6 separate regions of the Homo sapiens genome follow, and regions 1, 3, 4, 5 and 6 are each reported to be linked to region 2. Evidence: microRNA targets listed by miRTarBase, many of them from high-throughput screens and not tested one by one. Region 2 holds a microRNA gene; each other region holds the end of a gene's coding sequence.

Region 1 (5,000 bases), not on the chromosome of region 2:
ACAAAAATCATGCATGCTCAAGGAGGTGCATTTAAAGGAGACACTGTGTGGCCAGGCACCCGCCAGTAATCCCAGGACTTTGGGAGGCCAAGGTGGGAGGATCCCTTAAGCCCAGGAGTGAGACCAGTAGCCTGGCCAACATGGCAAAACCCCATCTCTACTAAAAATGGAAAAATTAGCTGGGCATGGTGGTGCATGTCTGTAGTCTCCGCTATGTGGGAGGCTCAGGTAGGAGGATCACCAGAGCCTGGGAGGCAAAGGCTGCAGTGAGTGGAGACTGTGCCACTGCACCCCAGGCTGGGTAACAGAGAAAGACCCTGTCTCAAAAAAAAAAGAAAGAAAAAAAAAAGACAAATGGTAAACAAGACACTTGTAGTATATTAAGAGCTTCACATTAAATATTCATCATTATACAGTGTGTCACATAGATTTGGAATGTTACAAGAGACTTCAGCAGTAGGTGGCTGGTTTAAGGCTCCTGGCAGGGATGCAAACAGCCCCAAGGAGGGAGGTGGAAAGGCCAAGGGGCACCTGTGTTCCAGGACCAAGGGGCTTGCCCTCCTGCAAGCGCGCCTGTGAACAAGTCCCCGTGGGGTTCTGGGAGGTGCGCCCACATCTAAGACTGTGCGCCCTGCACTCCCTCTGGATGGCTTGCCGAATTTGGTCTTCGCTGATCACCAATTCTGGAAGGGTGGAGAGACAGTTGGCTGGACAGCTGCCTGATTCGGCCATGACCCTTCACGGGTGTCTGTGGGCCAACACCAAACGCCAGCCTGCTCTGCTGGCAGGGCTTCTACCTGCACAGTCCCTAGGGCTGCAAGAGCAAATGGGGACCCTGGCTGCCGGTCCTTGCCAGGCCCTTGGTCAATGATATCACCACTTCTGAGACAGCGTCTGGGGAGCTACCGGAACTTCGTGTTCAGCATCTTACAAAGGGGGCCGCTGGTTCTGGGAATGGGCAGAGGGAGCCTGCAGCTCCACCCTGTTGACCGGACGCCTTGCGGGTAGCTGCTTCAGGTTTCCCTCCTGCTCACTCTCAGGCCACAGAGGGGCCCCGGCCCACAGCCGCCCTGTGAGGACAGGGCCTGCCTCCTGAAGCCTCGGAGTCTTTGCACCCCTTTCCTGGGAACAGCTACGCTGTGAGCCTCTCTCCAGGAGAGGGTGTCAGCCTGGGCCATTCTTCTGACTTCAGGACGGGACTGGCAGGCGGTGGGGCCCTCTTCCCCTACAAAGCCTCCTTTCTTTCTGTGGGCGCCATCCTGTTTGGGGGGCTGCCAGAAGGGCCCTTGACTCCTCAGCGCTCAAGGACAGAGTTGCTCAAGTGGGCAGGCATTATGGTCAATAATAAAGCCAGCAAAGAAGGGAGACACAGAAACAGCCGCTAGTGCTGGAGGTTCTCAGACAAAATGCCGAGGGCGCGACGTTGTGTGGCAGGAGCTTTTCTTTTCTCTCAAAGAAATCCAGCTCAATTTTTTCCCCAATTAATTGGCAGCAGATGAAAAAAAAAAAAAACAAACCCAAAACAAAAACCAAACCAAAGCCAGTAACCTGAATGTGAGTGTTTCTGAAAGGGAAAAGCTGTTTCAATTGTTAGATGTCCAAGAAAACATGAATACAGGCTGACACAGGAAACGGTCACAATTAGAGGAAGAAGAGGGAGAGGTTCATAAAATTAAGGGAAAAAAATTCTTTTCAGCAGCTCCCATCCTGTAAGCTGGCTCCTCTGCTGGCCTCTGTCCCTGAGAGGGGCAGGAGGTTGGGCCTCCCAGGGAAACTTCAGGAAGACGAAGGCCAGGGACAGAGGGAGGGTCCCAGGAATACCCTAAGAGGCCAAGTCAGGGCCAGAGGGCACAGCTGCCAGCTTCCACTGAGACCCTCCCAGAGCCTTTTCTGAGGAGCAATGTGCCCGGGAAGATGGTCTACAGGGAAGGACCGTGAGGTGCGGCCCCACCCAGCAGCCTCAGGAAGTGGCTGGACCTGAACTTGCCAGTGTGAGGTCTCACCCTCCTCCCCCGCCGGAGGGTTGTTCCCCCTCTTCCTCAGCCTCTCTTGGGCCTCCTCTGAGAATAAGCCTTGGGGTCCAGGCTCCTCTGTTTGGCCAAGTGCCAACTCCTCACTCATCTTGTCATTTCCCACCTACCTTCCCACTCCCCCAAAGGAAAGCACGAATCGTTCCAGGGTGTCCCTGCCTTCCTCCCTCATTGAGGGATGTTTTAGGAAATGCCAAACAGGCAAGGAAAGGATTGGCTTCTTTAAGAGATTAAACCCAGGCCACAGCCAGCGTGGTCTCTATGAGGGCTGGGCCACGTGGACGTGCCAGACAAGGCCTGGGAGGAAGACCCAAGAGGCAGACTGGTCACTAAAGGCGGGTCACCAAGGGCAGGGCTTTGCACAAACCGCTGAAGTCCACGCAGCTACCTAAAGGGGCAGGGCTCAGTCCCAGCTCGACACGTGGCCTTGGCGAGTCCTCCTTCTCCGGGCCTGTGTCTCTGCATGTGAACAGTGAGCTGGAACCACCTCCAAACAGTCTCTAAAGACATGAGCAGCGCTGATGTCTGAACCTGCTGATGACATTCAAACTCGGCCCCTTGTGCTCTGCCCAGGTGGGCCAGGGATGACAGTCGTCAAACTTCTAGTTCATTCAGACCAGCTGGTGCCTGGCGAAGGCTCTGGAACCCTTGTATCTCATTCAGGAGAGGGCAGCCACATCTTCATGCTACTGGGTGGGTGGAAAAAGCAGGAGAGCTGAGAAACTCTTAGCCTCATCGGGGCTGCCTGGCCTGTGTGGGAGGACCCTGCTATGGCAAGCAAGAGAGAGGTCGCGTGTGCGTGTGCGTGTGTAGGTGTTCTTGTGTGTGGAAGCAGTGTGGACCACTGAGGGCTGTGTGTGTGTGTGTGTGTGTGTGTAGGTGTTCTTGTGTGTGGAAGCAGTGTGGACCACTGAGGGCTGTGTGTGTGTGTGTGTGTGTGTGTGTAGGTGTTCTTGTGTGTGGAAGCAGTGTGGACCACTGAGGGCTCTATGTCCCTGGGAGGTCAGGATTCTCCCTCCTCCATGGGCAGGGTGACAGCAAGGCCATGCAGAACCAACGAAAGAGCATTGGCTGCAGAACCGCTCTGCTGCTGGTGAGCTGTGTGGCTTTGGGCAAATGACGTTCCTTCTCTGTCTCCCTTTCCCTACATGCCAAATACCTCCCAGGTGGTGCTAACAGATAGTGGGGAGAGAGCCCTTTGTAGCCAGCTGGGTGCTGTGTCCAGGGGTTGGGGGGGTGTCAACACAGACGTCCCACTGCAGGAGGGAAAGACTGGTTTTTTGGTCAACACTGGAGGCTCCTGACTATGTCCACTGCTGAAGCCTGAACTCTGAGCTCTGGGTTGACTCCCAGAGTGCTACCGACTGCCTCAGCCCAGTTGTCAGAGCAGACGGCTCTTGTGTCCAGAGCTGCTGAGGGCTGGAGCTGAGGCCTCGGCCTCCCTCCCCTCCCTGGGGCCTGCCACAGCAGCAAGCCCAGAGGAGACACGCCTTGCTCTGGGAGTGAAACCAGAACTGCCCCCTCAGAGACCCTCTGCAGTATATCAAAAAAGGATAAGGCTATATATTAAATGACTATTTTATTTACACACCCTATTCATAAATAATTGAATCCTCTTTTTGACTGCACAATGATTCCTTGAAGATAGCCTAATGATTACACTGAGTGACTACAAGTAGATCAGTGGGCTTACCCATCTGTGTGTGACCACCTTCTCACATCTGTACTCACACACACACTCACACAGACACACATATACACACCAGCGGGGCGGGAACCCCGGGGCCTCCGGGACTCTCAAAGCACCAGCATTTGGCTCCCAGCATCAGTAGGGGGGCTCCTGTGGGAAAACTTTGCCCTGTACAGAGGTGTGAATTTGAGACAGCTGGAGAACAAAGAGATGTCAGCCAGGGAGCTCCCGCCCCACCCTACCCCGCCCCTCGGAGCTGGTCTGCCTTTGTTCATCCTGGAAGGCATCTCTTTGGATTTGCAAATATTTTAATTCACAGAAACTCAAGGAGAGGGTGGGGGTGGGGGCTGGGGTGGTGTGTTGCCGCCCTTCTGTCTTTATCCAGGCCTTCTCCAGCCCCCGTAAGTGGCAACAGCATTCTAGAGACATGCAGTGGTGTGCTAGTACCATACACACAACACAAACGACACAGCCAGCAACAGTGGCTGGGCTGGTTGGTGGGGGGCCTCTGGCACCTCCAAGTCTCAGGCTCTGTCACAGAGCAGGGCAGGTCTGGTCCGCTCACAGGGTCCTCACAGCCACGGGATAGAGGAGGGACAAGTGCTCAGCCCCTTTGATGGGTAGCTTTCTGGTGGTGTAGTAGTGGATGACTTCCGGGACACTGTCGAACGGAGGGCTGTTCTGACCCAGAACGTATTTCTCTTTGGTTTTGGCCAGTTTCATGTGCATAAAACCCTGGTTGCTCCTGTGAACAAAACACAGAGTTATCAGAACTACCCCCCTGACACTCAGGCTGAGGCCAAGGGTCTCCTCAGCTGTCTGGGACAGAAGGGATCCCAGCCATGAAGTGGCTGTGAGCTGCACCTCTCCAAGCCAGGACCGAGGCCCAGGACCAGATGAAATGCAGCTGCACCCAAGCGCACCCCCAATTCCGGCATCTGACCCGGAACCAGCAGCAGCCGCCACTGCTACAAGAGAGCATTCCAACACTGAGCGCTTCTAGGGACTTCTTCAGAAAAACAAAACAAAACAAAACAAAACAAAACAAAACAAAACAAAACAAAACAAAACAAAACTTAGTCCCTCTTTTCTATTACCAGTGCATATCCCTGTTTAAGCCTTGCCTGACAGGTGCAAAGTGTGTTCATGTCCCCAATGCCATGACAAGTGGGTAGGGCAGGGGTCATCACCCCCAGTTTCCAGAGGAGGAAACTGTGTGGCAGGGATGGCAAGTGATCTGTCCTTCCCTTTCAGTAGTAGGAAACTGTCACTGGGAAGGG
Region 2 (5,077 bases):
TGACCAAAAGCACCTTTAAAGTGAATATACAATTTATTTAACATTCAAACTTCATTAAGACATGTGCAATATGGCAATTTTACTGGGGATTAAACCCTACCTAGGATTGCTTGCTGGGGCTTAGCAACAGGGTCCAGTTCACACTTAGCACTAATTAAATACTTTATTGAATAAATACAATACCAAACAAAATGCATTCAAATGCTTTCTAAAAAAATTTTAAAGGCCTTTCTACTCAGGCTAATGACAAACACAATAAAGGCAGATATGCTAGTTTAACATAATTGGCTGATTTTATACAGCACTTATATCTTTTAGTCCACAAGTATATTATTAAATGATAGAGAACATCTAATACAACCATTTCTACAGAACTAGGAAATAAATTTCTAAGAAAGAAAGATTTTACAGACCCCATCTTTTATACCCACCCCAACAGTCTAACTCTAAAGAGGATAAAGCCAATGACTTTCCTCACAAGAGCTCACGACTAACGTCGCTTTGCTATCAAAATCTGTATTTCTGATCCGTTATGAGCATTGAGACAAGATTCAAATATTCCCAAAGAAAGAAGCACAATGCACGTTGTGATCGCCTATTCAGCAACAGCGAGCACTGCATCCAAAACTCTCATCCCAGGAATTAAATAAGGTCAGCCACATTCATGGGCATCTCCTCCACTGTAGTATTGTAGAAAGTCTCAATGTCACGAAGAATCCTCTTGTCTTCTTCAGTAACAAAGTTTATAGCCACACCTTTCCTCCCAAATCGACCCCCTCTGCCAATTCTGTGTAAGAAAAAGAATCAGAACGTTACTTCTCACATAATGTATAAACTACTGAACATGACGATCCACTTGTTAACCACCAGCTGCTGTTTACTTATCAAGGTTATAGTTCGTGCTTCTAACTGGAGCACTAGCTGCTAATGCATATCTAGAGAAAAAAATCTTCCTTTGCAGTTAGTGCCAAAAGGATTCAAGGCTTGTCTGGCTGCAAAATGAGATTTTTATCAGGCATCTTGAGCATTATTATAAAGCAGATGACAGTATCGTGTTTGGGGTAGTGAAATTAAAGCCCATACCAAAGTGGGCCAGCCAAGAGCAGGTGTCAGCCTGGGACAGATGTGAACACCAGGAATAAAAGAGCAGTTATGTAATCCATTTCGACGCACTTCTGGAACTGTAAACTGTAAACAAATGCTGCAAAGGTTAACTATTTTCTAAAACTTACTTTTTTCCAGTGGGAAAACAAATATTTGGTATGGTAACCCAAACTTATCACTGCTTTTTTGCTCAGTTTCACACGTTGTAACTCAAATTACTCTAAACGTGTTTAACTGCCAAACAGCTACCTGCATGTTAGAAACCAGACAATACAAACCACCTAATAAGAAAGGTTCCCTAATAGAAATACTAATACAAAAAAATGCCTTAGCTGGAGCAACTTAAAAATCAAATAATCATGACAAAAGAAAAACAAATATAAATACCGACTCGCTCTTTATTCAAACAGTGTGCTGTTTCGCTTATGATTCCACGTCCTAAATTACGTCAACGCCGTTTCTGAGTGCCATCTCGTCACCAACTGCTGCTATCGACTCCTGTATTTTTTAAAAAGTCTTTTTTTACATCATATAACAAAGTACAATTCAATTTATTTAGGGATAAAGCCACTATAACTAAACCAGGGTTCACTCAAATTGCTACCAGGCGACACCAAGAAAATCCCAACTATAGAAAAAATCACCAAGAAAAACACATGGACACAAGAACATCACTAAAAGCTCAAGCATAAGGTAAGACCAACAATTGTGGAAAAAAACCCTATGTCCACAATCTGGGCAATGTTTACAAGTTTTCCCACTTTGTTCTCATCAACCTTCCCTAGTACAAATTTAATTACATCATCTTACTGAACACTACTGACTTTACTGAATCTATTCCTTGATTTGATGTTACCTTTCATACAAATCACAGTAGAAAAACGTATGAATTTTTTTCAATACAGCCAAGATGCTGGCTTCTCACCTGTGAATATAGTTTTCACGATTGGTAGGTAGATCATAATTTATAACCAAAGACACTTGTTGCACATCAATCCCGCGAGCCTGAAACACAATGGCATGTTTTAAAAATTGATTCAAAAAAACTTGACACCTGTCATGTAGGCCACAAAATAGTAGCGAACTATACTAAGTGGTATAGCCCACTGTGGAGTGTGGTCTTTTACTCTTCCAAATAGCCCAAGTTGGCAAAGGTTACTTAAAAACCTGCCCCCCAAAAAGCTAACTTTTGGTAGATTTTTAAAAAGCATTAAGAGACTTACCAACAAGTCAGTAGTGATCAGAACACGACTTGACCCTGACCGGAATTCCCTCATGATAACATCTCTCTCCTTCTGGTCCATGTCACCATGCTGCAAATTAATAAACCTTAATTCAAGAATCACCAGTCAGGTCGGTATTTAATTTTAATCAACATGTATGAGACCAAGCGTCCCTGGCTGCTACAGGAGAATAGCAGACAGGTATAGTTAAGAAACAACTTTATTTTAAGCAGGGGGAACGACAACACAGCACTTAGCAGCTATATTGTAGTCTGAATCCTGCTTTAGTGGAAATCCAGACATTTTAGAACACCTCTTACCAGAGCAGAAACTGTGAAGTCTCTGGCATGCATCTTCTCAGTCAGCCAGTCCACCTTGCGCCTCGTATTGAGAAAAATAACAGCCTGTGTAATGGTCAGTGTCTCGTACAAGTCACAAAGTGTATCCAACTTCCATTCCTGTAATGTTTAGAAGTTAAAGTTAACAGTCATTTAGTTTTTCCAACTCTTCAGTTAAAAATTCATTCTGGGCCAGCCACAGTGCTAATGCCTGTAATCCCAGCCCTTTGGGATCCTAGCACTTAGAGCCCAGAGTTCCAACCAGACCAGGGTTTCAAGAAAGTGAAACTGTCTCTACCCAAAATACCAAAATTGGCCAGTCTTAGCCAGTCTCATAACCCAGTCTCAAAACGTAGAAATTATAAAAATTAACTTCATTCTGTTAGGTCTAATGAGATATTGCACCAAATCTTAAGACAAAGGACATTGGACATTAAGAAAGAGGTCCACCCCAGTCTTTACAATCTAGTGCTGTTACTTTTCTTCTTGTGTGTACTCTGCTAGCATTATTGCAAAAACCAAGACATGGTCCTAGTGTCTGCAATTTTAGCACAGTGCTTATACAAGAAGGTAAAATAATGTCTAACAATCAGACAGTTACCTCTCTCTCAACATTAATATAAAACTGTTTGATTCCTTCAAGGGTCAATTCTTCCTTTTTCACCAGAATTCGAATTGGATCTCTCATGAATTTTTTGGTCACTTCCAACACATCAGTTGGCATTGTGGCAGAAAGCAACACAACCTTAAAAAGAGAAAATTATGTTGTAGCACAACTTACACATTAATACCCAAAGGAAAATGTCTGAAGCCAAGCGTCTCTGTCTTACTACGGAATGAAGGTAGACAGAGTTATGCATCAAGTGCTTTAAGCAGGGGGAACGACAACAAAACACATCAGTTGTATTGTAACAGTACCTGCATTAAATAAACCCCATCTCTACCTTTAAGAGGGGGGTGAAGTAATGCTTACCTGAATACTTGTGTTTAGTTTTTGGAAAATCTCATAGATTTGATCCTTAAAACCACGGCTCAACATTTCATCTGCTTCATCCAAAACAAACATTTTGATCCATTTTGGAGCTGTTAGAAACAAAGTCATACTGTCATTTCTAGATCTACTCAGTGATACAATTTGACTTTTCAACTATGTTAACAGTTTTAAAAAAAATACTCTCTTAAAGACAATACTTACAAAGGTATCTTCTGTTTAACATATCAAACACTCTCCCGGGTGTACCAACAACAATATGTGGTGCTTCAGCCTGCAGTTTTTGCATTTCATTTCGAACATTTGTTCCACCAATGCAGGCATGACAAGTGGCTCCCATATAGTCTCCAAGTGCCAGAATTACCTTTTGGATCTAAAACCCAAGCCTTAATTATTATTCCGCAGAACTCCAGGATCAATGACTAATTTTTAAAGCATAAAGGCAAATATAATCTGGTCTGCCAACAGCTTTTATGCATGCACAGCACAAAACTACTTCCAAGCTTAAAATGCAGACGACCTAACTGCTGCAAGGTAAAATTCCCTTAATGTCTTTCTTATGCCTTGTCAAACTTGGGATGCTGCTGCTCCACGCATCAGCTAGACAATCCAAGAATAACGTTTCCTACATTATTCTTCACTGTAGGTAGGGAGTACGTAGTGAAATTTATGTTCTGTAATTACAGCTAGGGCAAATGATTTTTTTCCCCCAGAGGGTATTGTGCCTTATATAATCCTGACCTCAATAAAGCCTACAGCTTTATTAGGAAGGTTTACTTCAAAGCCAATATAGCAGTGAGCTTTGAAAACATAGCATGCAACAGATGCATCACGAACTACGGAGACAGTCAAATGGTAACATGTCACTGCAGTTTTCATGTTGCACAACTGCATTCAAACTTAAAAAATGGGGACAGATCTAGTACATCCAAGAGAGCGCTTCGGATTCTCAATCTATTAGTATACAACCCTACAAACCATACCTGCATACCCAGTTCTTTTAAAACTTTCAACAAAAACTCCCTGCATGCATGGACAATTAAAAGGAGGGATCTGGTAGGACCAATTTATACTAAGTTTTAAATTCTTCACAGTTGTGAAACCTGAAACCTATGCAACACGCAAGCAGTTTTTTTGAACTACACTATCAATACCTGTTGAGCCAGTTCTCTGGTGGGGGCCAATACTAGTGCTTGGGTCTCCTTGAACTCAATCTCCAACTGTTGCAGGATGGAAATAGCAAATGTGGCTGTCTTGCCAGTACCTGACTGAGCTTGAGCAATCACATCATACCCTAAAAAAAGTAGGATACACATTTACCGATCCCACATCAAATTGTCACTTCTACTTCACACCATGTATTCCATTTGGAACATTATGCCCAAATAATCAAGTGATCAGCAATGAGTATTCTCTTCATT
Region 3 (5,075 bases), not on the chromosome of region 2:
TTTCTCTGTGTCCCCAGAGCTCCAGATGATGGTTGAACATCACCTGGGGCAACAGCAGCAAGGAGAGGAACCTGAGGGGGCCGCTGAGAGCACAGGAACCCAGGAGTCCCGCCCACCTGGGATCCCAGACACAGAAGTGGAGTCAAGGCTGGGCACCTCTGGGACAGCAAAAAGTATGTTCAGGCTGGGGAGGGCCCCAGGCATCCTATTTCCCAGCCCAGCAGGAGGCAAGCCTTACCCACTGCGGGGAGGGGAAAGAGTTGGAGCCTGGGAGAGGCCTAGTAGTAGGCAAAAACTGTCTCAAGGATATGGATCTGTTGGCATGTTCGGCATATATTTGAATCTTCACTTTTCCTTACTGAGTGACACCAAGCCCTCCCAACTTGAACCTCAGAGCCCCACTGTGGCTACATGGGGGAAACCCACCTTCATGGGAACAGCAATCACAGGCTAGAATCCTGGCTCGGCCACTTGCTACCTTACCAGCTGAGAGGCCTTGAACGACTTAACCTCAGGGTATAAAATGATAATGAGGGTGCCTGTTGCAGTGGGTTGTGTGTGACTATTAAATGAGACTGGCTGTTGACACAGCACCCGACACACACAGAGCATGCAATAAGTGGAAGCTGGTAGCAGTGCGCTATGTCCCTTATCCTAGATATATTCCAGAATTCAGAATGCTTCCAATTTTATGAAGATATAGTACATAAACTGTGTATCGCATAGTATTCCCGGCAGAGAACCCTACAATCAAACACATAATATTTCTGCAATCCAGTGAATGGTCTCACTAAGCAGAATAAAGACTAAAAACAGCCTCCTATGAGTTCATGTCAGGTTTAGACACATATTGAGTTTTGTTTTTTAAACTGTAGAGGGTTTATTCTTTCCAATTTGATTGAAGATTTTTTAAAAGTGAACATATAGTAGTAATTGTGATCAAAGAAAACCCTGTTGGTCTTGCCTGATTGCACCCAACTTGGTCCTGGGGCCCTCTCAGGGGCCACTGGGGTATGGGTGCAGTGAGGAGAAGCAGTTCCCTCCCCAACACCTTTATGAATGCCACCTCTTCCTCCCACCCCTATGTTCCCTCCCCAGAAACTGCAGAATGCATCCCTAAAACTCACGAGAGAGGCAGTAAGGAACCCAGCACAAAAGAACCCTCAACCCATATACCACCACTGGATTCCAAGGGAGCCAACTCGGTAAGACCCCAGGGCTGGGCTGCCAGGTCATAGGAGAGGAGGCTAATATTGTGGACAAAAGCAAGGGGCTAATATTTGGAGTCTAGGAAAAGGAAAACAAAGAACCAGCTTCAGTCCCTAAAAAGTTATTCTTTATGGTAAAAGGACTTGTATCTCCTCTGACAGACAAAAAGAAATGGATAGCTGCAGCAAGAAGGATTGAGATTAGACTTTGTGTAGGACTTCTGGCTCCTGGAATGGGTGAGAGCAGTAGGCCATGGATTTTTTGATAAAGGGGATTTGGAACCCGAAGGGAGATCCTCACCTGCCCAGCTGAAGTGGGCAGTGGCTCTCCCTGCCTGGAGGATGCATTGATGAGATAACTTCCTGAGCTTTGATTTCATAATCCGCAGCCCCCTGCATAGACTGGACACAGGAAGGACTGCTCTCAGACATCAGAACAAGCTTTCTGAGACATTAGATGTTGACAAATGGGATGGCCAGAAGGGGAAGGGACAAAATGACCCTCTGGCCTCTCACCTTCTCTTTCTGTCCCCTTTCCCCCATAACAGGTCTGAGAGAGGAGGAGGTATCTTGGGATCAAGACTGCAGTTTGGGAATGCATGGACACCGGATTTGTTTCTTATTCCTTCACTTTTGGGGAAAATCTCTTGTTTTTAAAAAGTGATAAATTTGGTGTTAGGTCCTTGGCACTTTCCTTCTTTTCCAACTGGGAGAATCCTTTCTCCCTGCCTTCTTGCCCTGCCCTCTCTGTAGCCCCCACCCTCCTGCCAAGCTGCCTCTGGGAAGGAAGAAACAGGAGCTAGGCAGAAGCCTTGAGCAGGGAAGAGTTCTTCCCTTAGCCCTGACTTTACTTGCTGTGGGAAGAGAGATGAGGGTCAGATAGGTGGGAGGACTAACTTCCAGGGTGCCAAGAAGGAAGAAAAGCCCCAGGTTCTCTTTTCTTATTGAGGAACGATCCGACCACCTCACAGGCCTGCCCTGCAGCTGGAAGACTCGGCGCTCTAAGGCCTGTGCCGTGTCCAGCTGTGACTGTGCGGTGGGCTCCATCTGCTGGACAAAAGGGGAACTGCACCATGGCACTTGGCCCATGGGAAAGAGGGTATGGTGGTGTGCCGATACCTCCTCGCCTGCCCTCCAAGCCCCAGCTGCCTTCCTTTTGGATTCCCAAGCTTCAGGATGTGTTCCCTCTTCCAGCTGTGGGACCGCTGTCCCTTATTTCAACCCGTTAGCAACAATGGATAGAGAACACAGTGGCTATTAATGAAGAGGCCCATGCTGGAGACTGGAAGGGTTCCCTTGTCCTAGACATTGAGGGGCCCAGATAAGACCAAAACCAAGCATAAGAGAAGAAACTGTCTCAGATCTCACGGCCAGGCCTCTCTCCTGCTGCTGTTTTTGATTTTCCCAGGTAGTGGGAGAGAGGAAAGGAGGGAAGGCAAGATTCTTTCCCCCTCCCTGCTGAAGCATGTGGTACAGAGGCAAGAGCAGAGCCTGAGAAGCGTCAGGTCCCACTTCTGCCATGCAGCTACTATGAGCCCTCGGGGCCTCCTCCTGGGCCTCAGCTTGCCCAGATACATACCTAAATATATATATATATATATATGAGGGAGAACGCCTCACCCAGATTTTATCATGCTGGAAAGAGTGTATGTATGTGAAGATGCTTGGTCAACTTGTACCCAGTGAACACACACAGTCAGGCCTGGTCTCCCTTCTTTATTGTTCTCTGGCTATAGCAGGGGTCTGGGAAACCAAGGGCAGGGGTGAGTCACATGCGTCTCTGCCCTTCTCGGGGTGGGGTAGGGTGGAAGTACCAGGGTAGCAGGTCTAGGAGACCATGGATGTGGATTTCGCATGAACAGGGCCCACTGTACAAATGCATGGTTGGTATTTACAAGAAAGAAGGAGGGCAGTCACCTGGACTTTGGCCTTTCCTGGGGCAAGGTGGGGGCAAGGAGGAGCCTGAGGAGAGGAAGGGGCACCGCGCCTGGCTGGGTTCTCTCCAGAGGACAGGAAGGCAGCAGCCCTGAGCCCCTTGTCCATCTGCCTTTCACCGACTACCCCTCACTTGTCTCAGGGGAGGAGCTTCTTAGTGCCTGCAGCTGGGCCAGTTCTGGGACGTGGAGAGGAGGGGACAGACCCTCTCTTTTAGCAATGCAGGATTACTCACCCTCCCCAGGCACCCTTGACCCTAACCCAGCTGGTGTCGATACATTCTGAAGGTGCTTTGCTGGGGAGATCCTCAAAGCACTTTACAGACATTGGTCGGATGGAGCCTCCCAGCCCCAGGGGAGAGGAAGGAGGCAAAGGGCTCCGGACTCAGGGCAGGCGACAAGCCCCAGGGGCCCAGACCAGTCCCAAGGAAGGTCCCAGGAAAGGCCTCCCGCAGCCCCTGGTCACAATGGCTCCTTTTGCCCCAGTCACTGTATCAGAAAGGGAGGGAAGGAAGATTCAGAGGATCAGGCTGGAGATGGGGCTGAAGCAGCGCAATTCTGGGGTGAAGAGGATGTCCTCTCCACCCCATTCCCAGGTCCTAGAAAGGTACCATGCCCTGAAGGAATCCACTCCCCTCCCCACACATAGGGCTCTGAAAACCCCCAGCTTTCTATCCTATTCCAGCCCTTCCCAGGGGAGGAAAAGGGGCACCCAGACCTGCCAGCTAAGATCTGGGGTGGGGGGCTGAGGGAACCCCCAAAATGTATTGCTTAGAAACTTGGAGGCAAAAAGGATGGGGGAGGTCCCAGGGGGCTGGCATCTCTGACCCTTCCCCAAGGCCCTGGGAAGCCTCCAGGAAGCTCCCCGCTCCCTGGCAGCCACCTGGCCATGAAGAGAATCCAGAGGCTGAGGGATGGGCACAGTGACCACTGGGAGCCTGAAGTTCCCCAGTCTTGCTGCCGGAACATTAAAGTGCACCCCAGTGGGTGTCAGGTGGGGAGGGGCCCTTTCCCCAACCCCAAATCTCTGGCATTTGGCCTTCAGGTGGGTTGTTTCTTCCACGACCACGCTCCCTTGGAGCAGATGGGGGAGCCAGTCCTGATGGATGGTGCTGATGACATCAAACACTTTGGACTCAATGAAGACCTGGGGAAAGAGGGAGAAACTTCAGTGCCCTGAGCTTTGCCTTCACCTCCAACCTGACCTTCCTTCTCCAAGTCCTGATCCCCACTCAGTCCCGAGTAGAGCTGTGCAAAAAATGCCCTTCAGAAGGGTGCCCAGCCAAGGGGGTGAATAGGGGCTGAAGTCGAAGTCACGTTCAGCTGCCCTCACTGAGCTGTGTGCCCTGGCTGGGCTCCTTTTCCCTAACCCTCCCTAAGGTGCGGTGCAGGTTAGCTGTCACCTGGCATGGGCCCACCCTGTTCTGCTGCTGTTCTGAGAAGGTACCTCCTTTGTTCCTGCAGGGACTGGGGGACAGAAGAGCGTGGGAGGATTTCCCTGCTCCACCCACACTTTGGCTCCATTCTATGTCTTCACTCGCTCCATTTTACTGCTCAAAAGGGGAGAGAGAATGTCGCATCCACTGGAGCCCAGAGACGACCCAACAAAGATGCCATGATAGACACCAGCTCTCCTACACCCTCCACCACAACAGGCTCACCTGGGCCAGCCCCAGGGCTAATCCAGATTCCCATTCTGGTTGTGTTCATCTTCGGCAGGGGATGGGGGGGCCTCTTCTTCACAGGGGGACAGCTCGTCAATGGACATCTGGTTGGTGATGCCTGTAGAGGAGCATAAAGGAGGCTGAGCTTAGGCCAAGAAGTATTCTTCCCCAGAACCCAAGGAGTATGTGGAGACATGTAAGGGATTCTCATCCATCAACCTGCCTTCAAGCTGAACTACATTCAACCCATCCCCACTTGGGAAGAGCCT
Region 4 (5,086 bases), not on the chromosome of region 2:
AGCTGCAATTACAGGCACCCAACATCACGCCTGGCTAACTTTTGTATTTTTAGTAGAGAGGAGGTTTTGCCATGTTGGCCAGTCTGGTCTCGAACTCTTGGCCTCAAGTGATCTGCCTGCCTCAGCCTCCCAAATGCTGGGATTACAGGTGTGAACCACTGCGCTGGGCCTGCAATGGGAGTCACTGACAAGGTTTTTAAAGGGCCCAGGACTCTGTCTAGCTGCGGCATGCACAATACTCCTATTTGATCAACATGGCTAAGGCAAAGTCAAACTACATACCTTCCATGAAGTCAATTCTGTCGAGTAAGAAATGCCTTATAAATCCGGTGCTCAGGAATGTTGCACTTTGGAGACAGATGTTCACCATCTGGTTCTCAGCTGCACCCATGCTGCTGCTGGTTCTCATATTCCCAGACCTTGTCCCACAGCAATAACACTAGCACTTGTGTGGCCCTTCATGGTTTTCAAAGCATTTATTACCTCATATCATCCATGCCCAAGTCAGGTGCAATAGGCAGATGTAAAAAGCAAATCCAGCAGCAGTATTGTGACATGAAGGAAGGCTGGTTAACACAGGCAGGACTCATAGTGCAGCACCTCAATTAGACCACTGTGTTGTGGGATGCTGCCCATCGCTAGAAGGTGCAAAGACCCACCTTGTCATACCTAGACTTGACGAAACTGATTTACACTAAAATGAATATGAGGCTGAGACAGATACCAGAATGCCACTTCTGTTAATTCATGCCTGTCTCCCTTAGATGCTAAGCCTCATGAGGACAAAACAAAAAAAACCAAACAAACCCAGCCTAACCCCCAGGGAGGGAAGAGGGGAGACACATATGCAGCTCCACAATGTAATTCATGTAATCCATCCCAGCACTAGGATTTAAGAATGCATGTTTAGTATATTCCATCCCATTAAGGCAGTGGTTCCATTTTTTTCTGCATCCACCTCAAGTCAGTAGCATCTCACGGCTATAAGAACACCTACCCAAGACATAACTAGGTTGCTTTGCTTATGTACAATAACATGAGAAATTAGAAAAGCTGTTTTAAAATACCAGGAGGCATCTACCTTACAGTAGATTACTTGTCAATGGCCTCAATATCTGAAGATTTTAAGTTACAATCCCTGCATCCCTCTCCAAACTAAAAGCCAGAATGCTTGAACCTGAAAGAATTCCTCTCCCCTAAACAATGCTTGATTGGAGACTGACAATGTTCATCTAATACCTTCTAGTTGACATTACTGATCTATCTGGTCAACCATGTTGTAGTATATATATTTGCTATGAAATTCCCAGTGGAGCATGAGATACATGCTAATCCACACATTTTACAGATGAAAGGATTGAGATGTCCAAGGAATCTGCAACTTGCCTAATATCAATCAGCAAATGGCAGAGCCAGGTTTGTACATTCTTGCTGGCCTGGGAGCCACTGCTTCTCAGGTGACTCAATCTTTACCTTGGTATGTCAATCTTATAGCAAAACTTCAAAAAGGCAATGTTACTTCCTTTGCTTCTTGATTTTATCAGAAACCTTATTGCTGCTAAGTTCTGAAAACTGCCCACCTTACAAATGAGGAAATCAGAGTGTAGAGAAAGTAAGGATTTTTTTCTCTCTCTTTTTTTTTTTTTTTTTTTTTGAGACGGAGTCTCGCTCTGTCACCAGGCTGGAGTGCAATGGCGCGATCTCAGCTCACTGCAACCTCCACCTCCCAGGTTCAAGCGATTCTCCTGCCTTATCCTCCCCAGTAGCTGGGACTACAGGCGCACGCCACCACGCTCAGCTAATTTTTGTATTTTTAGTAGAGACGGGGTTTCACCATGTTGGCCAAGATGGTCTTGATCTCTTGACCTCGTGATCCGTCTGCCTCGGCCTCCCAAAGTGCTGGGATGACAGGCCTGAGCCACTGCACCCGGCCAATTTTTTCAACGTTACACACCCAGCTAAGATGAACCTAGAACTAGAGTCAAATCTCAAACGTTCTAGACTAGAATTCTTCCCACCAGGCCATTGTCTTTACCTTTGTAAGCCTTTAAATCTTGTCCTTATAGAAAACTTCTGCTTAAATAGGCTCCGAATGCCTCAGTCCACACTCTGACTGGGTTAACATAGGGTCTTGTTTCCCAACTCAAGGGACAGAAATGTTTCTGTGTTAGAAGAACTGTGATTCTTTCTAGCAGAAATTAGCAGAGTAAGTGTTTTTGGAACAATTGCTAATGAGAAGGAAATCTGAATAGTTTCCTGAAGTATAAAATCTCAAGTGTTTGTTTAGGGTACAAACTGCTATGTAAACAACACAGAAATCTCAGTAGCTTAAAAAAAAAGATTCCTTGATCATGTCATAGTCCAGTGTAGGTGAGCTGGGGCGAGGAGGGAAGTGTACATGGGGAGCCATCCTGGGACTGAGGCTTCACTAGTCTAATAGAAGGGCTGATGGCCAAAAACTAGGCTAAGAACTGCTGAGCTAGTGGCTTCACCTTCCCTAGGGCCTTGTAATCTTCCATCAGTTCCTTTGCATCCCATAGGCTGAGGAGGGAAGAAACAGCATGAATGATCTTTTGGAAAGTGGTAGAGGGCCACCTAGAAGTGACTTACATCAATCGCTTCTCTCCACAGTCCATTGATATGGACCCCGTCAAACTGCAGCAAAAACTGGGAAATACAGTCTCTCTGGGTGCCCGGGAGGAAAAGGAAGTGGGTTTGGTGAACACATAGCATTATTTCTGCTACACTGTCAAACACATTATTTATTAGATTGTATCAATACTACTGTTAGTATTATTAGTATTGGATTGTACCAATAGTATTATTAGTATTGGATTGTACCAATAGTATTATTAGTATTGGATTGGATTAGTATTGGACTGGATTAGTATTTATTAGATTGTACCAAATACTAAATGAAACAATGATACTAAATGCTACAAATACTGCAAATTTGTAAAAATACAAATACTATTAAAAATGACACAAATATTATACAAATACTACAAATAGAAATGTTATAATAGAAATACTAAACGATACAATGAACCAAATGATACAAATATTAAACTGTATGGTGATAACCAATATTAAATGACTGAGTGATATACAACACTAAATGGTACAGTGATACAAATACTAAATGATACACTGACACTAAACAATACAATGATAACAGATACTCAGCATCTGTTCATGTACAAAGCATCTCCTTGATCTTCAGCCTGAGAGGAAGAACTGCCTGCACTGAGAGAACTGCAGAGATGGCTGGCTGCAGGGTGGCTGCAGGGATTGACTCTCTGCTCCACCCATAAAAAGATGGTTACAGGTGCAACATCACTGGCAAGAAGAGATGAAGAGATAGGATGGAGCCTGTGTTAGAGAAGGTAGTAACTGGTTCTCCCATCATCAGCTAAGAAGAGAAAGGCAACACAGAACTTTTTGAGCTTTTTTTTCCTTTTTTTGAGACAGGGTCTCACTGTATTGCCCAGGCTGGAAAACAGTGGCACAATCACAGCTCACTGCAGCCTCAACCTCCTGGACTCAAGGGATCCTCCTGCCTCAGCCTCCCAAGTAGCTAGGACTACAGGTGTGCACTACCACGCCTAGCTCATTTTTTTATTCTTCATAGAGATGGGGTCTTACTATGTTGCCCAGGCTGGTCTTGAACTACTGGCTTCAAGCCATCCTCCTGCCTTGGCCTCCCAAAGTGTCGGGATTACAGGCATGAGCCACCACACCTGGCCCGCTTTTTGAACTTTACTGAAGCTTATATACAATTCTGCCAGAGTTGTTTTCCAAAATCATCCAACTCTAAAACATATTCTTTTATCTAAAAAAATCAATTGGTTTCCATACCACTCATTAAATAAATTATTAACATAATTGGTTAACTAATTGGTTAACACAACCCCTCCTCAATTCTGGGGATAAGATTATGCCTCATTTTGAGGAAGGTGAAAGGCTTGACGGTGAAATTGAAATGCAAAGAACAGAGTTCAAGGCTCATGGTTAGGTTGTTATTCCCAGATCCTAATACAAACCAGCAATGGTGCTATTCTGAGCCCTTATCCACAGGAGGTTAGATGCCAAAAAGGACTCTGAGGTCAGCCAAGGTGAGCTTGGTGACAGATTCTCCAGACCCTGATAGAACTTGTTTGGCCAAATCTTTCTTTTTTTCTTGGAGCTGTAAGATCTTTTCTTCTACTGTTCCCTCACAAACAAATCTAAAAAACAAAAACAAAAAATAAGCAAACTATCAAAAACCCTAAGCAGCACATCTAATAATATATTCAAACTTTTATTATGCTTTCATTTTTAATGAGATTTCTTCCTTTAAGTCTTCTTAGGTCCAGTTAAGAACCCTGTCTGAGGAATCCAAACAACCTTGACTAGATATATATCCCTTTAAAAGGATGTGACCCACATTGGCATTTTAATACTTTCTGAAGCTAAGGTAATTGAAACAAACTCAAAATAAGCAAAAGATATCCCAATCCAAAAAAGTATAGAGATCCAGCTTTTACCCAAAAAGTTCTACCTTGGTAAGTCCATAAGGCCTCAAAGGTTATCAAATTTCTGCTAGTTTAAGTAGAGTATTTCTTAGTGAATTCACAATAAAAACAGGGTTTTCAAACCAAGTAAATGGCACTGTTGTCATTCATTCACTCATTCAAAAGTATTGATTAAGCACTCACTACACTATGCTAGGTGTGGGGATGGAGAGATGAATATAGTCTTGCTCCAAAGCAGAACAAAAGCGAGACAAACATGAAAATAAACAATAATATGACCTGGTAAGTGCTATAATGGAAGTATGTGCCGTGTGCAAAAGGAGGAGAAGGAAATGTGTCCAGGGTAGTCAGGGAGGGCCCCATTAAACAGTTAACTCTTAATATGAGACTTGTATGTTGGGCAAGGGTTTGCCAGAAAGAGCAGTGAGGAGAGCACCCCAGGGAATGGGAACACGTGCAAAACCATGGCTGAGTTTCAGAGCATGGTGTATTGGAGGAAGTTCACATTGACCATGTTGTCCACAATGGCAAAAGCTCAAGAGGCTGGTAGGGCCAGATCACGGGTGGTGGTG
Region 5 (5,086 bases), not on the chromosome of region 2:
GATTCCCTGCCTCAGCCTCCAAAGTAGCTGGGATTACAGGCACAGGCCACCACACCTGGCTAATTATTTGTTGTATTTTTAGTAGAGATGGCGTTTCTCCATGTTGGCCAAGCTGGTCTCAAACTCCTGACCTCAAGTGATCTGCCCACCTCGGCCTCCCAAAGTGCTGGGATTATAGGTGTGAGCCGCTGTGCCCGGCCCCTTCCTCCTCTTTAATTTTCTAAAGTATAGGCTACTATTACCAAGAAATCCTAAATTGGGTGATGTGCACACTTTAAGTATTCTAATAGTTAACAATATTCCAAGACAGCTTCTTCATACTGTCCAGAATGCGATTATACACATTTGGATGTTTAATCTCCTGTTATGTAGAATCTTAGAGAAGCAGGGTTTCAGGCTTGCAGGGCAGAGTTTAAGCTTGCTGAAGGCTGGTAGCACTATAAAGAAAATTGGCTACCTGGAAATTTCCTCATTGCATAAAGGTTATAAATGCATCCTTTAAGAGGGACTGATTCTTAGTACAGCATAAAGGCAGTAGTCTATTTTGCATGGGATCAGCCTTGTTTGCAGTTTTGAATGACAGGTCCACAAACTGAAAAGTTTGGTTAATAAACCGTGAATCCCAACATCTCTTTATTAGCACTAAGAAGAGTCAAGTGATCTCAATTACATGGAACAGAGAATTGAGGCAATTATCCAATCATTCAAACCCAGAAAAAAAAAAATCTTTGGCTTGAATTATACAGAAAGTGCCTCAATTTCCTATTAAAACTTTAGAAGCCCAACTCTGACAAAAGTCTTTCCTTTCAAGATGTCTTAGGGGTAAAGCGAACAGAGTCGCCATCAGAGTATTGAGTTTTATAAGTTGTTAGTAGTTTCCAGGTCACTAACCACATTTTTTCCCCCAGGAAATGAATTCAGGAATTTCTTTGAACACTTAGCTCCATTGGAACAGTAGTCTAAGCTTCTTTTTATTCCCAGGCATGCATTCTTTATTGGAATAGTAAGACACCTTTGGAACAGGGGCAGGTATTGTTTTTTGTTCGGAAAAAGGGGTAAACAAATGGCACCAAAGGAAGGTAGAGGATGTTAATCTACAGCTCAAAGTTCTTATATAGTTTAGCAACTAAAATTCTAATGGTGGGTTATGTTTTCTTGGGATTCTATACACAGGTGGCATGTGGACAGCAGTTGGAAAGAGAAAGTACAGAAAGAAGTTAAAAGTATGCTAGAAAAAACAGTAAATGAAGAAATGACAGAGGTGCCAAAGCCAGGTGAAGTGAAGAGGTAAAGCAATAAACCCTTCAAAGACAAAGACAATCAGCGTTCAATTCTCTTGTCTTTGTTAGATGAAAGGTAGGCCACTCCTGTGTCCTCAAAATGGAGGGACATTTCAAGTACTAGAAGGTGCACTCTCCTGGTACCTTCCTAAGCCCAACCAGTTCTGAACCCTGCCCCCCACCTTCCCAGCAGTCCCAGCTCCAAGCCTGCAGCTTTGAAATGCAGGCCTTTGGAATGAACGGCAGGCCTGGACAGAACACATCCTGGAATCGCAGTCTATCGACTGGCATTGCCTGATGTTGTTTATGCTTGTATTTACCCAGGCTTCCATCCAGCCACATAAATTATAAATTCATCTATACACCCACTGGGGAATCCAACGCACACACGGCACAAAAGGGAGAATATGAAATATTTTCACAGGTAAATTAATACAGGATTTAAAGCTCTGGCTTACCTAGACATTAAAATGAGTAGAGGATGTAACTCTTGCTGTAAAAACTTCTTGTTTAAGTAGCCCTAGAATCACTTTTTTTTAGGCCTAATACCACTTTAGGAAATTTTTTTCAGCTGCTACATTTAGGTATCTAATGCCATCATAGAGCTCTCATAGCATTTTTGCAAACTATCTTTGCAATGCTTAAAAGAAACACTGAGATCAGGGGTCAGTAAAGTTTCCATCGAGTCCCATAAAGTAAATATTTGAGGCTTTATGGGCCATACAGTCTGTTTAGTATAAGACGCTGCAGCTGTAGCAGAAAACAGCCACAAGAAGATATATAAATAAATGTGTGGCCATGTTCCAATAGAACTTTACTTAAGGACACTGAAATTTGAATTTCAGATAATTTTCACATCATGAGATCTTCTTTTTTTTTTTCTAGCATTGTTACCTTGTGGGCCATACAAAACAAGCAGCTGGCTAGATCTGGCCATCAGCCCATAGTTTGCTGACCCCTGGTGTAGATGGTTGAAAGATGAATCTTGTTGCTGTCACAATAACCAAAGTGGTAGAGGGATCAGGGAAAGGCAGTGCAAGGAAAAAGGAGGCAATATTGTGAAGTTGCATTCATCACGGTTTTTTTTCTGTATCTTATGATGTTCTGGTATCTTATAAATTTTGCTGGCAGGGAAGAGACTCCCAGGACTAGCTAATTCTTGGAGACAGCAAAGGACTGAGCCCTGAGCATATCTAACTATTGTCAAGAACATAGCCGCAACCTTCCCCTTTATCTAACTTTCACACACCAAGCCAATATAGAAATTGCCCTAACTCACCCCAGGGGCTAGGTACCAAGCAAATGGAGACCGCCCCTCCAGCCCAGAGCCTGCTGGAATTATTCAGACTTGCCAATTGGAAACTGTTGGCCTTGCTCTGCCTTGCCTCCCTGCAGAAACCTCAGTCAAAGCCTATGCTTTCTTCTTGCTCCTGCTTCTGCCCCCGACCGACACCGGTGCTTCCCCTGTGGCCCTGCATGGCATGGCATGTGCCCTTTCTCTGGGGAAATTGAATAATATAAAGCTTTCAGTGGCACTGGCCTCTGTGTGTCATCACTCAGCTACCCCCATAAATTAAAATCTCAACAGGTATCATGAGGCAGAAGTGTCTTCCTACTCTGAGCGGGATCCCAGGACCAGCAGCATCAGCATTCCCTGAGCCTCATCCCAGACCGACAGAATCTGCATCTGCATGTAAAAAAGATTCCCGGGTAATTTGCAAGGATATTGAAGTTTGAGATGCTGTGGTGGTGTGGTTTAAAGCTTGAGGTCTGGAATTAGAAGGCCCATTTCAAGTATCTGTGCCTCTCATTAGCTATGTGGCCTTGTACAAGTTATTATTATTTCCACCCCTAATAGGTAGAGATGAATCTATGCTAAACACTTAGAAAATGCCTGGCAAATAATACTATCATTCTTTTTTAAAAAATAAATGCCCATGCACAAACTGTTAAGATAACTTCCTCAGATACATTCTTAGCCAGTCTCTTGAACTGATCCACTGTGATTATAGCCCATGCCCGCCCCCAACAATTCCACCCATAAAAGAAAAGAAAGACGCCACAACTCCTGGCCGCAGAGTGTAAAATATATTGATGGCTGTAAAGGGACAACTTGGGGATATTTTAGGTCTGCTGAGATGATGCACAGCATACATACATGCTCTAGTTTTTGGAACCATGTCATTAAGTTTTCAAATACATCTGTTTTGAACATGGTATTTTGTTTTTCTCATTAGCACGAATTACTACTCTACAGTTTCTTCTAGAGTAAATAAATATAATGGCTGTTTGCAGAGCGACTACAGACTTACTTAGATGTTTAACAAGGTGAACGATTTCACAATTAGATCAACCATTGAGTTAACAGCAAGGTGTTTTTCATCTGTTTTGTTTACTGCTATAGTGGGGACAGGTAACTTCTCCAATTTATTCTTTGTTGACATCTTTAGTTACCAACAGACTCCCAAAAGTAATGAAAAGTCGATTAAAAAGAAAATTGTAATTATGCCATGGGTTTTCCCAAGATCCTTAAAGTCAGCTCATTTAAATTTACAAGAGAAAAATAACAGGCATCATGGAAAACTAAGTAACAAAAAGCTATTGAAAAATACATCTGTGGAACACAGTGGTCAGTTGTAAACAGCTCAGAAGAGCAAAAAAAAAAAAAAAAAAAAAAAAAAAAAGTCCTTCTAGCATGTTAAGCAGTCCAATGACAAACTCTGCTTTTTATTTTCTTTCTAGTGGCTATTTTCCTACCACAGTGTTGAGCTTCATTATTATATTAAATAACTTATATGGGTAAAAAGGAGTTTGCTAACCAGCAGCCAACTCAAAACCTTGTAGGAGGAGGGAGGAGAAAAATTTACAACACAGCACATACTAAGGGGAAACAAAGTCTGCAGTCAGCTTCCAACCAGTCTTACCCCTCTCTGGCAATACTGATTGAGCTAAGGTTTGGGATCTAAACGGGGGGGTTTTAGATCCCCTCCCTCCACTCCTTTCTTCATTTAAGTTAACAAAAGAAACGTGGGCTTCCTCAGAGCCAGCACTCAGCTGGGCAAGTCCCATTAGCAGCAAATGTTCAACCAAATTAAAAAAAACACACACACACAAAAGAAAACTCCATCCAGGTGCAGAGCTGTGATTCACATGGAAATTCCAGGAGATGAATAATGTGCAGAGCCGGGATTTTTAGAGGATTCTTTCTCAAGTGTCTTCAGTGAACATTTCAGTCTCACAAAATCTGAGTCTATCTGTCAGCTGCAGGAAATAAGTTCTCCATCTGGTCTTGAGTGAGCTTGTGTGCTTTGCTGACCCGGGTGCTCCAATGACTGCAGGGTCTTCATGAGTGTTCGTGGTACGAGATGCCAGAAAACAAAGGCCAGCCCCTCCATGATCTGCAGGAAGCAGCAGCAGCAGCAGGCAGGCAGCTCCCATGTGTTAAACTCTGCCTAAGAGGCTCGACCTGAGTAATAAAAACAACACAACCTAAGACAGAATGTAACAGACTACTTGAACTAGGATGAAAATGCCTTGTGTAATACTAATTTTATCTTTCCTGTGTTTTAAGTTTGATTTTACAAAGTTAAACCAGGAAAAAAAAAATCAAGCTTTTAAGTCCTATTGGCTCTCTGGGAAAACTGCCAGTCACTTAAAAAACAAACATTTATTAATGGAGATGGCAAAAGCTTAAACAGATAAATCTATATCTTGCGTAGGTTTATATTATAACAAAAACAAAAAAAGCAAAGATCATTAATGATAAAGAGCTTTTAGGTACAGGTTATCACAGATAGATTTACTTG
Region 6 (5,086 bases), not on the chromosome of region 2:
GTGACTGATGGAGGTACTGTAAGTAGAGCCCGTAGCACACAGTTGATGCCATAGAGGAGGGTGATTCCTATTTAATCTGTTTCTCCCACGAGCCCAGCAAGGAGGAGCCTAGTAACCAGGTCTTACCTCTGTGTCCCATGGCAAGCTTGGAAATGGAGGTGTCTGTAAATGCCTGTGGGATGACAGAGGAGACCAAGTGGGGAATGGCAGCGGCCTCTGACTAGGGGAGCTCCTTCCCTCCCTCCCTCCCTCCCTCCCTGATCCTTGCCTCTCTCCCCCAGGTGTGGACAGTTCTGTGTTCGAGGCTCTGCCCAAGGCCTCAGAGCAGGCGGAGCTGCCTCGCTGCAGGCAGGTGGGGGACCACGGGAAGCCCTGCGTCTGCCGCTATGGCCTGAGCCTGGCCTGGTACCCCTGCATGCTCAAGTACTGCCACAGCCGCGACCGGCCCACGCCCTACAAGTGTGGCATCCGCAGCTGCCAGAAGAGCTACAGCTTCGACTTCTACGTGCCCCAGAGGCAGCTGTGTCTCTGGGATGAGGATCCCTACCCAGGCTAGGGTGGGAGCAACCTGGCGGGTGGCTGCTCTGGGCCCACTGCTCTTCACCAGCCACTAGAGGGGGTGGCAACCCCCACCTGAGGCCTTATTTCCCTCCCTCCCCACTCCCCTGGCCCTAGAGCCTGGGCCCCTCTGGCCCCATCTCACATGACTGTGAAGGGGGTGTGGCATGGCAGGGGGTCTCATGAAGGCACCCCCATTCCCACCCTGTGCCTTCCTTGCGGGCAGAGAGGGAGAGAAGGGCTCCCCAGATCTACACCCCTCCCTCCTGCATCTCCCCTGGAGTGTTCACTTGCAAGCTGCCAAAACATGATGGCCTCTGGTTGTTCTGTTGAACTCCTTGAACGTTTAGACCCTAAAAGGAGTCTATACCTGGACACCCACCTCCCCAGACACAACTCCCTTCCCCATGCACACATCTGGAAGGAGCTGGCCCCTCAGTCCCTTCCTACTCCCCAACAAGGGGCTCACTATCCCCAAAGAAGGAGCTGTTGGGGACCCACGACGCAGCCCCTGTACTGGATTACAGCATATTCTCATCTCTGGCCCCGAGGCTGCCTGTGGGGCGAGTGGAGACCTCCCATCACTGAGACAGATCACAGACCACGAGTGCCTTTCCCGGACCTGGACGTTGCCTCCAGAGCAGGCACCAGCTCTTTCCCTCTCTACACAGAAATATTTTTGTAAGGTTCTGGGGCAGGGAGGGAGCATGAAGTACGAGGAAAACTTGAATTCCAGATTTTTAGTGCAAAGTATTTATCATTTCTACCAGAAATAAACGTTTTAAGTTTTTACTTGACTAATGAGACCCAGAGTTTGGAGAAAACTTTTGGCCAATGCTGCCACCTGATGTCAGAAAGTGTCCCCACACCCTAGCAGTGGCCTATCTTGGAACAAGAACTTCGAAAGCACCTACTGTGTGCTCAGCCATTTGAGGAAGGAAGGAGGAGAAGGAAGATGTTACTAGGGAAGGATGAGATAAAACTTCTGCACCCAAGACAATGAGACAGACATAGCTGCAACCGTAGTAAGCCAGTCAGAAATAGCCAGCGCGAAGGCAAGAGATGGGGTGGAGATTGGAACCCCGCTTCAGATCTGGGCTCGGCTACTTACCTGCTGTGCAGCCATGGGTCAAGTTGCTTGACCTCTCTGTGCCTCCACTCCCTTAGCTATAAAATGAGCTTACTTAAGAGACCGAAGTGAATTCTTGCATGTCAAGCATCTAGCACATAGTGCTGTTAGCCATTCTTAGTATCATTACTATTAGTGAAAAAAGCAGACATTCCTGCAGCTATAAGCCTGACTCAATGAAATCAGACATCTGGAAGGCTCTTCACTTCCAAAGTATCTTTCAACATGAAGAGGCTGTAATAGGAAGTGCCGGGCAGGGTTCTGGATGGTTCCAGAGCGAGGGATGTGCAGGCTGCATGTATTGGGAAAGGCTTTCTGGAAGAGTTGGGGTGTGGGTTGAGGCTGGAAGATGGTAACGATTTGGCAAGGTGGAGGCAGGAGTGTTTTAGGGGTTGGAAGAGTCTCATGGGTTCCCCAGGTGACCCAACTTTCTCAAGGAAGAGATGGGGACAGTCAGATCCTTCCTTGAAGGCCTTGGCGAGGGAAGGGGTTTGCAGGGTGGTCCCCTTTACTCTGCTCCCAGAACTCCCAGAACAGGCTGCAACTGCCCCTTGAACTCATGCAGGCCAGAGGGTTGAGGGAGCTGGGCTTGCTTGGCCTTGGTTGAGCTGAGGGTCAGCGGGGAGATAACCTTTTCAGGTGGGCACACCTCCCTTCTGAACCTGTTTTCAAGGACCAGCTCAGCCTTGCTGGGGGATGGGGAGGGAGCTGTCCCATCAGTCACCCCCCAGTCCTTTTTCTCCTTCCCTTTCTGCCAGGGCCTCCATCCCAAGCCCCAGCCATTGCTCCAGGTGGGCAAGGGATACTTGGAGAAGGCACCTGCTACCTCCTGTGTGCCTTTTTTGATGGAAGGGGAGTCCCCAAATCAGTATGTTTTCCCTTCTGATTTCCAAGTCACCAAAAATAATGCTTTTTTAAAAAGCAATGTTTTCAAGACTTGGAGTGTTTTTCTGACCTTCCTTGACTAGCACCTCCTAGCTTGTCTGGCCCCTGCAGTGAGGGGGCTCTGGACACCATCACTACAGACACCAGCTGCCTTGGGCTCCTTAGTCTCAGGGGATGGTGATGAGAAGAATCCCTGAGACTTTGGGCTGACCTTAACACTCTGCAAAGTAGGCACCTCCCACAGGGCCACATCCAAGGGCTCGAGTCCACCATTCCAAAGCACTCGCCCAACCGCCTTAGCCCCACTGTCACAGCACCTGAAATCCTGCCGTGACAGTCACTTCTTTGCTGAAAAGCAAATTTTAGTGTGCATCAGAATCACTTAGGAGCTTGTTGAAATAGATGTAGGTGGTCAGCTGTTTGGCAAACACTGAGATAAGACTTCCCTATCGCAGGAGGCTTTTGTGGCCGTGTAAAACACTTGGGAGTGGTAATATCAGTACTTATTTCTCTGCGGACTTTAGGGTTTACAATGTGCCTTCATATAAATTGGCCATTGGCTCCTTGTAGTGACTCTGTAACATTTTATAGATGTGGCTCCCTTATAAAATTGTGTGACCAGCCCAAGTTCAAGTCCAGGCATCTTGTTAGAACAGAACTGAGATCCAACCCCTGTCCTTCTTACTCCACACCCCCTCCCAACCCAAAGTGCTTTATGAGGTTGGCCAGCCAGAACTTCCGAGAGCACAGCTCACCCACAGGAGGGGACCTAGGCTTCGGTGGGACGGGGAGGAGTGTGGAGTGTAGAGCACCTGCTGGGCCAGTCTCTGTAGTAGCAATCATTGAACATGTGGGCAGGGGGTGGTGGGGACAGTGTCCAAAGATTCCTGGGACCAGAATTGGCAGGAAGAACTGCCTGATTTCCGTTTGCCAGGGTAAGCAAAGCACCCTCGGGGAGGCCAGAAACCCAGCCCTGACTGGTGCTGCTGCAAGCCGGGAGGATGAGTTGTGCCTGGTTCCCTGGGCAACCTCACCCGGGCTGGGCTGGACCTCACTATGGACTTCCTGTGGGTTTTCTTCAGGCATCTCTCCCTTCAGGCTTGTTAGCCAAGGGAGGCCTTCAGTGGGGGAACTGTGGGCCACAGCTGGAGGACCTCTACCCCAGGGTCTTTATTGGACCTGGCTCTGGTGGATGAGGGGACAAGGACTCCGGCAAAAAGGAGGGCAAGTGCCACTCTCAAGAACCAAAGGCTCGAGGCCAGCATTGTATCTGAGGAGCATGGGCACCCGCTGGGGCCCAGCTCTGTGTGACCTTGTGTGGGTCACACACATCCCATAAGAGAGAGGGTCTCACTGGGTTATCTCCAAGGTCTTCCCCAACACGGGCATTCCATGTCTAATCGCCTAATATTCTCCCAAATGGTCTATTGGCCATTTGGCTACTGATGGAAAATCGAATTGTTTACTGTGACTTGCTCTTACAAGCCAGGTTGTAGGCAGGAATAGAAAAAACAGGCAACTGACTCTAATCCCAGCACTTTGGGAAGCCGAGGCGGGCAGATCACCTGAGGTCAGAAGTTCAAGACCAGCCTGACCAACATGGCGAAACCCCCTCTCTACTAAAAATACAAAAATTAGCCGGCGTGGTGATGGGCGCCTGTAATCCCAGCTACTTGAGAGGCTGAGGCAGGAGAATCGCTTGAATCCGGGAGGCGGAAGCTGCAGTGAGCCAAGATCGCACCACTGCACTTCAGCCTGGGTGATGGAGTGAGACTCAATCTCCAAAAAAGAAAAGAAAAAACAGGCAACTGGAATGTCTGTGTCACAGGCGTGAACATTGTAGATGCTGTCAGATCACCCTACAGCTGGGGCCGTTCCAGTTTACACACAACTAGCAGTGTCTGAAAGTTCCCGTTCTCTCATATTCCTGTGGTATCAGTCAGGGCTCTCCAGAGAAACAGAACCAGTAAGATACACACATAGAGAAAGATTTATTTTAAGGAATTAGCTTGCTGGATTTTGGGGTCTGGCAAGCCCAAAATCCTAACAAACTAGCAGTCTGGCAGCTGAGGCAAAACTTAATGTTGTGGCCAGCCGGGAGTCTGAAATTTGTAGGGCAGGGCAGCAGGCTGGAAGCTCAGGCGGGACTCTTGTGTTATAGTCTTAAGGCAGAATGTCTTCTTCAGGAAACCTCCATTTTCGCTCTTTAGGCCTTCAACTGATTGGATGAGGACCACCCGCAATACAGGGGTGATCTTTTACTTAAAGTCAACTGATTATAAAGGTAGTCACGTCTATAAAATACCTTCACAGCAACGTCTAGGCTAATGTTTGACAAAACAGCTGGGTATGAGAGCCTGGCCAAATTGGCACATAAAATGAATCATCATGCCTGCCATCGCTTGGTATTGTCATAAACTGTTCGCTGTTTGACCAGTGAGAAACATGACAGCATTCCAGGGCTTATTCTCAGTATCAGCTATTGGCTGTAGCCAGGTGACAGCTGGGATGGTT

The links. Region 2 holds the annotated microRNA hsa-miR-1248 (ACCUUCUUGUAUAAGCACUGUGCUAAA, at 3,211-3,237, opposite strand). A microRNA usually pairs through its seed, bases 2 to 8, with sites in the 3' UTR of a target mRNA and lowers its output. Matches are read on the target gene's strand: a 7mer-m8 pairs with bases 2 to 8, a 7mer-A1 pairs with bases 2 to 7 and ends in A, and an 8mer does both.
Region 1: the mRNA of SHB is a reported target of hsa-miR-1248. Seed matches in the 3' UTR shown: 7mer-A1 at 3,154-3,160 and 7mer-A1 at 2,469-2,475.
Region 3: miRTarBase lists PDE1B as a target of hsa-miR-1248. Seed matches in the 3' UTR shown: 7mer-m8 at 2,919-2,925.
Region 4: the mRNA of TTF2 is a reported target of hsa-miR-1248. The part of its 3' UTR that is shown has no 7-base or 8-base seed match.
Region 5: the mRNA of RASGEF1B is a reported target of hsa-miR-1248. Seed matches in the 3' UTR shown: 7mer-A1 at 3,966-3,972.
Region 6: miRTarBase lists OAF as a target of hsa-miR-1248. Seed matches in the 3' UTR shown: 8mer at 1,036-1,043 and 7mer-A1 at 1,505-1,511.

What each region holds. Positions count from the first base shown.
Region 1 is chr9:37,915,540-37,920,539 of GRCh38, forward strand. SHB (SH2 domain containing adaptor protein B) reads right to left here. Exons shown (of 6, transcript NM_003028.3): 6 at 359-4,465. The coding sequence ends at 4,282. Among named protein-coding and RNA genes, the nearest start is that of SLC25A51, 14 kb to the left of the region's middle.
Region 2 is chr3:186,784,835-186,789,911 of GRCh38, reverse strand. It overlaps MIR1248 (microRNA 1248), which reads right to left and starts at 3,240; the gene lies at 3,135-3,240. EIF4A2 (eukaryotic translation initiation factor 4A2) reads right to left here. Exons shown (of 11, transcript NM_001967.4): 4 at 4,811-4,950; 5 at 3,861-4,029; 6 at 3,639-3,748; 7 at 3,267-3,410; 8 at 2,648-2,785; 9 at 2,328-2,417; 10 at 2,030-2,109; 11 at 15-787. The coding sequence ends at 643. RFC4 (replication factor C subunit 4) reads left to right here. Exons shown (of 11, transcript NM_002916.5): 11 at 1-12. SNORA63B (small nucleolar RNA, H/ACA box 63B) reads right to left here and starts at 3,589; the gene lies at 3,465-3,589. It also overlaps SNORA81, SNORA63, SNORA4 and SNORD2.
Region 3 is chr12:54,577,074-54,582,148 of GRCh38, reverse strand. It overlaps PDE1B (phosphodiesterase 1B), which reads right to left. Exons shown (of 16, transcript NM_000924.4): 15 at 4,804-4,924; 16 at 2,910-4,289. The coding sequence ends at 4,821. PPP1R1A (protein phosphatase 1 regulatory inhibitor subunit 1A) reads left to right here. Exons shown (of 7, transcript NM_006741.4): 5 at 18-173; 6 at 1,099-1,205; 7 at 1,757-2,903. The coding sequence ends at 1,762. Among named protein-coding and RNA genes, the nearest start is that of PPP1R1A, 9.0 kb to the left of the region's middle.
Region 4 is chr1:117,100,520-117,105,605 of GRCh38, reverse strand. TTF2 (transcription termination factor 2) reads right to left here. Exons shown (of 23, transcript NM_003594.4): 23 at 1-4,226. The coding sequence ends at 4,082. Among named protein-coding and RNA genes, the nearest start is that of MIR942, 8.4 kb to the right of the region's middle.
Region 5 is chr4:81,423,047-81,428,132 of GRCh38, forward strand. RASGEF1B (RasGEF domain family member 1B) reads right to left here. Exons shown (of 14, transcript NM_152545.3): 14 at 3,347-4,746. The coding sequence ends at 4,722. Among named protein-coding and RNA genes, the nearest start is that of RASGEF1B, 46 kb to the right of the region's middle. RefSeq lists an enhancer at 4,129-4,713 and a silencer at 4,489-4,783.
Region 6 is chr11:120,228,587-120,233,672 of GRCh38, forward strand. OAF (out at first homolog) reads left to right here. Exons shown (of 4, transcript NM_178507.4): 4 at 282-1,748. The coding sequence ends at 556. Among named protein-coding and RNA genes, the nearest start is that of POU2F3, 9.0 kb to the right of the region's middle.